Regions from separate parts of the Homo sapiens genome. Here region 1 is linked to region 2. The links come from fine-mapping of genetic effects on gene expression. A gene starts in region 2. The other region holds a variant in brackets. All regions are shown on one strand. Distances are between the middles of the regions. Region 1 overlaps NUBPL (NUBP iron-sulfur cluster assembly factor, mitochondrial). Region 2 holds the start of NUBPL (NUBP iron-sulfur cluster assembly factor, mitochondrial).

What was found. PIP is the estimated chance that this variant, and not a neighbour inherited with it, causes the effect.
Region 1: its variant is fine-mapped to the expression of NUBPL in fibroblasts (GTEx, PIP above 0.99). The same link has a PIP of 0.9 or more in breast.

What each region holds. Positions count from the first base shown.
Region 1 is chr14:31,684,423-31,689,811 of GRCh38, reverse strand. The region is part of intron 6 of NUBPL (NUBP iron-sulfur cluster assembly factor, mitochondrial); the gene reads right to left. It also overlaps the pseudogene RNU6-455P. Among named protein-coding and RNA genes, the nearest start is that of NUBPL, 130 kb to the right of the region's middle. The variant G/A (reference allele first, on the strand shown) is at 2,079.
Region 2 is chr14:31,558,491-31,563,879 of GRCh38, reverse strand. It overlaps NUBPL (NUBP iron-sulfur cluster assembly factor, mitochondrial), which reads right to left and starts at 2,476. Exons shown (of 11, transcript NM_025152.3): 1 at 2,333-2,476; 2 at 1,665-1,812. The coding sequence starts at 2,440. NUBPL-DT (NUBPL divergent transcript) reads left to right here and starts at 2,549. Exons shown (of 3, transcript XR_943720.2): 1 at 2,549-2,769. RefSeq lists enhancers at 1,752-2,307, 2,234-2,633.

The DNA.
Region 1 (5,389 bases), 130 kb before region 2:
AAGACTTAAATGTAAAACCCAGAACTATCAAAACCCTGGAAGATAACCTAGGCAATACCATCCTGGACATAGGAATGGCAAAGATTTCATGACGAAGATGTCAACAGCAATCGCAACAAAAGCAAAAATTGACAGGCGGATCTAATTAAACTTAAAAGCTTCTGCACAGCAAAAGAAACTATCAACAGACTAGACAGACAACCTACAGAATGAGAGAAAATATTCACAAACTATGCATCTGACAAAGGTCTAATATCCAGCATCTGTAAGGAACTTAAACAAATTTACAAGAAAAAAAAACTCCATTAAAAAGTGGGCAAAGGACATGAACACTTATCAAAAGAAGACATATGTGTAGCCAACAAGCATATGAATAAAAGCTCAACATCACTGATCATTAAGGAAATGCAAATCAAAACCACAATGAGACAGTATCTCACACCAGTCAGAATGGCTATTATTAAAATGTCAAAAAATAACTGATGCTGGCAAGGGTGGGGGGAAAAGGGAACACTTATATATACACTGTTGATGGGAGTGTAAATTAGCTCAACCATTGTGGAAAGCAGTATGGTGATTCTTCAAAGAGCTAAACAAAACTACCATTCAACCCAACAATCCCATTACTGGGTATATACCCTAAAGAATATAAATCATTCTACCATAAAGACACATGCACTTGTATGTTCCCTGCAGCACTATTCACAATAGCAAAGGCACGGAATCAACCTAAATGCCTATCAATGGTAGACTGAATAAAGAAAAGATGGTACATATACACCATGGAATACAATGCAGCCACAAAAAAAAAAAATGAGATCAGGTCTCTTGCAGGAACATGGATGGAGCTGTAGGCCACTATCCTTAGCAACCTAATGCCGGAACAGAAAACCAAATACCACGTGTTTTCACTTTTAAGTAGGAGCTAAATGATGAGAACACATGGACACAAAGAGAGGAACAACAGACACTGGGGCCTACTTGAGGGTGGAGGGCGGGAGGAGGGAGAGGAAAAGAAAAATAATTATTGGGTACTAGGCTTAGTACCTGGGTGATGAAATAATCTGTACAACAAACCCCCCTGAAATGAGTTTACCTATATAACAAACCCTTATCTGAACCCCTGAACCTAAAAGTTAAAAAAAAAAAAAAACAACAACAAAAACCTGTTCAGGCAGATAGCCTTTCTCCTCAAAGATTTTCTTTTTTTTTTTTTTTTCTTTTTTTTCTTTGAGATGGAGTCTCACACTGTTGCCCGGGCTGGAGTGCAATGGCGCAATCTCAGCTCACTGCAACCTCCTCGGCCTTCTAGGTTCGAGCGATTCTCCTGCCTCAGCCACCCGAGTAGCTGGGATTACAGGCGCCCACCACCACGCCTGGCTAACTTTTTGTATTTTTAGTAGAGACGGGGTTTTGCTATGTTGGCCAGGCTGGTCTCAAACTCCTGACTTCATGATCTGCCCACTTCGGCCTGCCAAAGTGCTGGGATTACAGGCGTGAACCACCGCGCCTGGCCCAGTGATTTACTTAATGATGTCCACGAACTCATCTGCTGCCTCTTGGCTGGCAGAAACTGCCTCTCCTGTTACATTGATATTTTTTTAAGGGAAACCTCTTCCTAAAATTATCAAACCATACTTTGCTGGCATTAAATTCTCCACCTTTAGATTCTTCAGCTATCTTTTGCTTTAAGTTGTTATATAATGACTTCATTTTTTTCTTGAATAATATTAGAGTCTACAGGCATGCTTTACTATAGCAATCCTGCACTCATATATAAGCTGCATTTTCAATACAAAGTAAAAAGGTATTTGGCAAAATGTGCAAGGTTTTCATGCCTGATAATGTAGCTGCAGCAACAACTTCACAAATTTTCTTATCTTTTCTCACAATGGTCCTTAGGTTGGATTCATTTATCTTGAAATGGCAAGCAACTGCAGCTGCAGACTTCATTCTATGGTACATATCAAGCAATTCAACTTTTTTTTGTAATGTTGTGATTTTCCTCTACTTCTTCAGAGACTTCCAGCATCACTAGTGGCACTTCACATGGTCCCATGGTGTTATTCAAGGTTCAC[G/A]GTATTATGTTAAACACAATGAAAAATACATGAAAACTCTAAGACATAACTTTTTACTGTAATAATTGATTGGAGAAATGAACTGCTCACGCAGAGATCATTAGCACACAGCATTTTAAGTGGATACTCACAACACTTGAGCTCACCACAATAGCAACAGGAGGTAGCTAACAAAATTATCACAGCAGTATAGTATGTAGTACAGTGAATTTTATGCAGTTATAACGTAGTACTACATCTGTACATTTGTTTACATTTCTCTTGACTGCTAATGGCACCATGCACAGTGTGTAAGTTTTGTATGCATAAGTTTTGATAAATTTTAACTTTTATAATAGATTTGTGTATACTTTAGGTAGTACATGATAAAATACACTAGTATCAACATATATTTTAGGCATTCATGACATATGTGATGTTTTATTAATTTTTTGATATTTCTAAGATACATGGTTCATCTGCAAGTTTTTTCAAGTTGTTCCAAATCTGCAAAAAATTTTCCAATGTGGTTAACTGAAAAAAATCCTCATATAAGTGGACTCAAACAGTTCAAACACAGTTATACAGGAAACTCAAAGTCATTTATGCCTGAATATGAGATACACAATGAATTTTTTTTTTGAAACAGGGTCTCACTCTGTTGCCCAGGCTGGAGTGCAGCAGCATGATCACAGCTCACTTCAATCTCAAATTCCTAGGCTCAACCAGTCCTCCCATCTCAGCCTCCCAAATAGCAAGACTACTGGTACATGCAACCATGCCCAGCTGTTTTTTATTTTTTGTAGAGATAGAGTCTTGCGATGTCGCACGTGTTGGTCTCAAACGCCTGGCCTCAAGTGATCTTCCTACCTTGGTCTTCCAAAGCACTGGGATTACAGGTGTGAGCCACAGTGCCCAGCCATACTGAATAATATTTTAGTATGGACAGATCCCAAGTGCTCACTTCAGCAGCACATATACTAAAATTGAAATGATACAGGGAAAATTAGCATGGCCCCTGCACAAGGATGACACATAAATTTGTGAAGCATTCCATGTTGTTATGAAAAGCAATAGCAAATGCTGGCGAGGATATGGAGAAAAGGCAGATCCCAAATTATTCATTGCGTGTCTGATGCTCAAACTTAACTGGGCATCCAACATATTACCTGGCAACCCTGCTCCCAGTGTGTGATACTTTGATCCTTGACATTTTTATTGCTTTGCTAGAGACCTGATTTTCCTCACATAACCTCATTTCCAAATTCTTTTATTTTTTAGAAAAGCCTAAGTTTCTAATATCCCTCCTCTGAACACAACCAACTTATCCATCACTTTTCACACCTTTTCTTCTACCAGCTACTGAATTGCTTCTTCCTCATTCCAGGTGTTTCATATTTGATCTCTCCAATTTTACCCAGTCTCCTGATCCCTCTTGACTACCTGTCTTTCTTGAAACCAGGACTTCAGTGTTCCACTCATTAATTCCCTGGATATTTTTCTCCTTTGGACTTTCTGCCACACCAGTTACTAATCCTAGATCTAACAAAAGGTTTACCCATGTCACCTTGCAGGCTTCAAAGAGTTATTGAAAACAGTCATAAAAACTTGGCAAAAGTAAAAATTTTGATATTCAGCATCCAGTAGGCCTTTGCTGCTACACAGGGGTCTTATCATTCATCTCCTCATCTCTCTTTTTTTTAATTCCTCTGAAAGCAGTTAAAAAGAACTGCCTCTGTACCATTGTATGCCTAAGCCTGATTTTAGACCCACCAGCATTAGAGTCACCTGGAATAATCTAATTAAAATGTGAATTCCTTGGCCATACCTGGGACCTACTGAATAAAAATCTTCAAGTGGGAGAGTGGAATAGAAAGCCTATAAATTTGAATTTTAAATCAGTTCTCCATGTAATTTTCATGAACACTAAAAACTGTGCATCACTGCTCTATTGAATAAATGCACCATCTTTTCCCGTCTACTGGGAAGAATACCTTTTGTTAACTTCTTTTTAGTGTCAGGTAGGATGGGATTACTTTATCTGCCCTTTTTTTCTATTCCAAACACAAATTTGGAAGAACTTCTTTTTCAAAAATAACTTACCTCTCTGACCTTTAATCCTATTCCCTTTTGCCTTTTTCATAATTTTTTAAAACAATCCTCTCATTTTCTATAATTTTCACTGCCTCTTCACTGAATCCTTTCACCTTGTAAAAGGTATGGCTGTCCTCTTTAAGAAAAAAAAAGGCTTTAATTTAATATACCACTCCTCCTTAAGCTACCATCCTATTTTCCTTTCCTTTCCCTCACCCAGCCCCCAAATTCTTGAATGGCCTATTTTAGAATACAATACTCTCTATATAGGTAGAATACACCTCTACCTACATAGTATTGTTATAAATGTATTCTTAAACCCCTATAATCTTTTTTCATTCCCTGTTCTAGTTAAGGTTTACAAATTTCCACCGAACATCTATTATTCCCTTGCCCTATCTCAATCCTTGTTCTCCCTGACCTATCATTCTTAAAACTCTCCACACCAGTGATTCCCAAACTTGTCCACAGACTGGAATCAGGTGGACAGTTCCAAAAGTGATAATGCCTGGGTCACATGCCCAGGATTTGTAATTTAATTGGTCTGAGGTGTGAGCTGAAATTTGAAAATTGTTTAAAATCCCTAGATGATTCTAATATACAGATATGTTGGAAAACCATTGCTCCAAACCTTTAATCTTCATGACATTAGTATCCTTAGTTTTTTCCTACCTTTTGAACTACTTCTTTTCCTGTTTACTAACTCCTTTTCCTCCCACTAAATCACACACCTCCAAATATGAATGTTAACCAAAGAGAAGTCCTCAATTCATTACTTTCCCTTACTATAATCAACATTAATTCAAGCCATGACAGAAGAGGTGTCTCAGGGATAATGCTGGTAACAATGTTGATACCCATTATAACATCAACAAATCTAATACACCACTAATTATAAGATGCATCATTATTTTGTGTAGCACTAAACGAAAAAAACACCTAAGATAAATTGGGGTCTAATAGGAGAATCCTACATAAAGCTAGGATCCCAAAGGACTACATCATCTTAAACCAAAGATAAATAATATATAAATCCACAATTTAGAAAGAAATCTCTCAACTTGGGCCATGGCAGAGGGGAGAAAACACCTCCTTAACAACATGAACCACCAGTTGGTATACATGCAGCTTTCCGATCTGTATTCATACCACCAGAGTGGTCCCCAAAACTTCTAACGGATAATTAAATTGAAAGTGCCTCAGGTTAAAGCATTCCAGGTGACTGCAAAAACGATACA
Region 2 (5,389 bases):
AGGGCAAAGACTTGATAAATTCGTTTTTATAAGTTACAAAATTCTGAATTTCAGGTACAAGATAGGTTACACATAATACAACTTTAAGGCAGAAACTTTCAGAGGGCAATTCATTTTAGAGTTAGGTTCTTCCTACATTTAAACAATAGAATCACTGAGCATATTTGCATTAGTCAAATGTCATCATTCTAATCTAAAACATCTCTAGCATGTATATTCAAATGGGAAGTATTTTGAAGTAGTTTGAGGCAGGAATAAATACATATAAGGAAAAGAAATATATTAATAATACCAATAGAGTTACATAAAAATAACCTATTTTTAAGACTTAGATATGCTCACAGAGCTGTTATGAAAAAGTATGGGCCAGCTTTTCGGGACAGATGGTATAATGTTAACAGAAAAAAAGTGAGAAAGGGACATTTACTGAAGCACCCATTACGTGTCACATGTTGTACACTTTCTCATACATTTTCCTGTTTAAATGCTTTCACATTTCATGGCAACAATCATCTTCCAACTAAAAATAATAAACAAACAATCTTAAACAAGTGCCAGCCTACAGACCCAACAAATTACAAAACGCAAAGAACTTATGGCTACAATCATGAAAACACCTTCCATCCTTATCCAGTTCAAGTAATCACAGAGCATGCAAAAGGATTCAAACCACTGAAAACTGAAAAATGTACTCCAAAAGGTTCTAGAACCAAAAACTAAGAGCTTCTAAATTTTAAAAACAACCAGATGGATTGTAAACCTTTAGGAAAGAAAGGAAAAATGTGCAGGAGAGCACATGAATTCATTAAGAACAGATTATTAATTTTTTTTAACAATATGGTATCTATCAAATAGTAATGGATTAGTGATCCACCACAAATACAATATTTGGTAAATCTTAACTTTTCCAAAACATCTGACAAATTCTTCCAGAATTCCCTTCTGATAAAAATGGGGAAAAATGAGCTAGTAGGCAGGGCGCGATGGCTCACACCTGTAATCCCAGCACTTTGGGAGGGCTAGGCGGGCGGATCACGAGATCAGGAGATGGAGACCATCCTGGTTAACACGGTGAAACCCCGTCTCTACTAAAAATACAAAAAAAAAATTAGCCGGGCGTGGTGGTGGGCGCCTGTAGTCCCAGCTACTTGGGAGGCTGAGGCAGGAGAATGGCGTGAACCCCGGGAGGCGGAGCTTACAGTGAGCCGAGATTGCGCCACTGCACTACAGCCTGGGTGACAGAGCGAGATTCCGTCTCAAAAAAAAAAAAAAAAACAAAAAAAAAAAGTTACTAGATGTTTTAAAAATAACAGCAACCAATTATTGAACACTAGTAAACACTAAGCTAAGTGGTTAGCTTGTGCAATTTGAATAACCATCTTATGAAAGAAGTTATCTCCATTTTACAGTTAAGTGAACTGAAGATTTGCTGTACAATCTGACCACTTTTTCCTGAGTTAAGGGGTGGGAGACCCGGCTAGTACCTACTTTTGTCTAACTCCAAAATCTAAGCGTCTACCCGCTACCAACTCCTGAAACTAAGGAATCACATGTTAGGAACTTCACAAATAAATTTTTAAAACACAAAACTATAATTTCAATAGTGTGCACTTGTCTGTTGGCATAAGTTCTTAATCAGGAATAGAATTAATATCCTATAATACCTGCTGTAGTAGATTTTCCGACTCCACCCTTTCCAGAAGCCACAACTATAACTTGTTTAACACCTTCTATCGGTTTCTGCTTTGGAAGTCCTCGGGACATGATTTGTGTTCTTCTTTGTTTTAGGGTCTCACTCCCGGCGCCAGACAACTTTAAAAAATAATAATAATAAAAAGCCGTTTTAAATAAGCCATCTCCATCATCACACTGTAAAAGCAAAAACAATCTGGGGTTTGCAATTAAGAGGGCTTTCTTTTCTAATTCTGCTCATCTTCACTATGGAGACATTTACCTACTACTACTGATAACAATTGTAAAGACACATTGCTTAAATTGAAATTTTTCTAGCAGGATACGCTGAACGTTTAAAAATGTAAAAACGCTGCCTCTTTACGGAGATAAGGCTTCCACGTGTTTTGCTTTTCTTCAATCTATTTGATAAATAACCCAAAGCCAAGAAAGCAATGTAGAATACCACATCTACGTTCTAACTGTGTTTCAAGTCCCGCCACGCCTCAGCCTGGGCCTGCCTGAAAAGTAGGCACGTCCAGCACACTGGGGGTCTCAGGAACTGAGGCGAGTCTTTGGCAAGAAGCAATGCCAGGGCATCTGCGGCCCTGCAGCCCAGCATCTGTCAGCCCGCTTCCCCCTGCCCTGCAGCACCACGGACCTGGCGCCCACAAACCATCGCTCGGCTTCCCCCAAGCGGGGCAGTGGCCCCGCCACCAGCCCGGAGCGACACCCCACCAAAAAGCAGCAGACGCTGCCAAATCCCCATGACGCGGAACGCTGCTGTGAGCCCTGCTGGGAAACTGTCGCGGGTGGCGCGGAGTGATGACGTCACGGAGCAACGCTCGGCTTTCTCTTCCTAGCAACCGGTCTTCTTTGGGTTTGTTGGCTCAGGAACCCAATCTGCATGATCTTGTTTATAGCCAGCTACAAACATTTTGCAGCGTTTTACTAAACGTTTGTGAAGTGTTGTCATATAAAACATCTCTTATGATACTTACAGAAGTCCCGAGGTAGACAGAAGACTTACCTAGTATACTCTTTTTATGGACAAGAAAACGGAGAAAGTTTAAAGAGACTTGACCCAGCTTAACAAAAGTAGGAAATGGGGGACCTTGAAAATGACCCCAGGATTTCTTACTAAGCAGTATATGGTCATTTAAATACTACCACCGTTAAGGATTTTACCTTTTTATTTTATTTTTTCCCGTGTGATCTACAGTGAGAGTCTGTTTTGCGTTGGTATTCATGGCTTGTGTTGCTGACAGTTCCCTGAAAGAAAGGTCAGGTTGCTTTACCAGCAACCTGGTAAAGAACTTTGCAAGTTCTTCCAGACTTAAGACTCATTTATTTAACAAATATTCGTTGAGCAACTACTATGTACCGAGTACTACAGTAGACTTAAAATATTCAGCATTGAGACCGACATAATTCCTCCACTAAAGGGCTTTATAATCCAGTGCAAAAGACAGAATAAGTTAACAACAAAATTGCGGTATAATATGATAAGTACAGGAGAAAAGCATTGAGGGATACAGGAGAAAGGACAAAGTGATACAAAGAAAGGGCACTCAATTCAATCAGGGGAAGCTTCTAAATTAGGTAATATCTAAGCTGAATGCTGAATCTGAATAATGTGTAGAAGTTAGCTGGGAGAATGGCAAGGAGATTGTTGTAAAGAGGTTAGAAATGGACTGCTAAGGCTAGGCATGGTGGCTCACGCGTGTAATTCCAACACTTTGGGAGGCCAAAGCAAGAGGATTGCTTGAGCCAGGAGTTCAAGGATGCAGTGAGCTATGATTGCACCACTGCACTCCAGCGTGGGCAGCAGAGTGACACCTTGTCAGAAGAAGAAGAAAGAAGGAAGGAGGAAGGAGGAAGAGGAAATTAAAAGGAGAAGAAAGAAGAAGGAAGAAGAAAGAAGAAGAGAGTAGAAGGAAGAAAGATGAAAGAAGAGAGAAAAGCCCCCGCCCGGCCAGCTGCCCCGTCCGGGAGGGACGTGGGGGGCAGCCCCCATCCGGTCAGCCGCCCCGTCCCGGAGGGAGGTGGGGGGCAGACCCCGCCCGGCCGCCACCCCGTCCGGGAGGTGGAGTCACCTCTGCCCGGCCACCCCGTCTGGGAAGTGAGGGGCCCCTCTGCCCAGCCGCCACCCTGTCTAGGAGGTGTACCCAACAGCTCATTGAGAACGGGCCATGATGACGATGGCGGTTTTGTCGAATAGAAAAGGGGGAAATGTGGGGAAAGGAAAGAGAGATCAGATTGTTACTGTGTCTGTGTAGAAAGAAGTAGACATAGGAGACTCCATTTTGTTCTGTACTAAGAAAAATTATTCTGCCTTGGGATGCTGTTAATCTATAACCTTACCCCCAACCCCGTGCTCTCTGAAACATGTGCTGTGTCCACTCAGGGTTAAATGGATTAAGGGCGGTGCAAGATGTGCTTTGTTAAACAGATGCTTGAAGGCAGCATGCTCGTTAAGAGTCATCACCACTCCCTAATCTCAAGTACCCAGGGACACAAACACTGCGGAAGGCCGCAGGGTCCTCTGCCTAGGAAAACCAGAGACCCTTGTTCACATGTTTATCTGCTGACCTTCCCTCCACTATTGTCCTATGACCCTGCCAAATCCCCCGCTCCGAGAAATACCCAAGAATGATCAATAAATACTAAAAAATAAAAATAAAAAAATAAAAAAGATATCAAAAATAAAAATAAAAAAAGAAAGAAGAGAGAAAAGAAGAGAGAACACAAGAGGAGTAGAAAATACATTTCTTTTCTGGATTGTTAAGAACTGTAAATGATCTGTGCAACTTAGGACAAAGTGACTAAAAGAGATGAGGATGGAGTGAAGGTTGGTTAGATGGAGGTTGCCTAAATCAAGAAAGGCTGTATATATCTTGTAAAGAAATTTGGACTTTATCCTAAGGGAACTATAGAAGGATTTTAAGCAGGAAAGTAACATCAGATTTGTGTTTTAGAAATACCACTATGATTACTGGGTTAAAAAAGAAATGGATCAGCGGGGCAAGATCAGAGACAAGGAGACATGAGGTCTCTCTCTTGAAGGCTTGACTTAACATCTCTAAATTTCACTTTGTTATCAATAAAATAGTTAATTCCTACTTCTATGGTTGTTGTGAGGTTGAACTTAAGATAATGCATGTAGAACAGCTGTCACAGAGTTAGTAATTGTTAGCTATTGTGGTAATCATTGGTTGTGTAGAGGTTTATGACATGAGCAACTAGATGAATTCCCTGAGAGAAAACATAAGAGGAGGAGCAAGTGAGAATAATGTTTGTAGAATGGCTGAATCATTACTTTGGTTTACCTTTCCCCAAATTAAAATTTTAGGAGAGTAGTAGAGATGTTTCTTCTCCAAAAAACACTGACACACATATACATATCCATGGCCTCTTTTCAAAAGGGTATTCTCCTTTGGTCCTAAGAATTGCTAAGTCATTTGACCCCATTCCCAAGGTCACTAATTGGACTAAAGACTGATGTACAACCAAAAAATTGACCAATCAGATTAATTCTCCAGAGAGCCTGGAAAATAAAAGTAACAGGTGTTAGTCAATCTTAGTTTGTCTTTGAGCTAATACAGTTGAAATTACTATTTTCTACTATGTGCATGCAGAAGCAGATAAAGCCAATGCAAGAGAGAAGAAGAAAGTAGATCATAAGAGATCATGTTACCATAGAGGAAAGGGAGAAGAG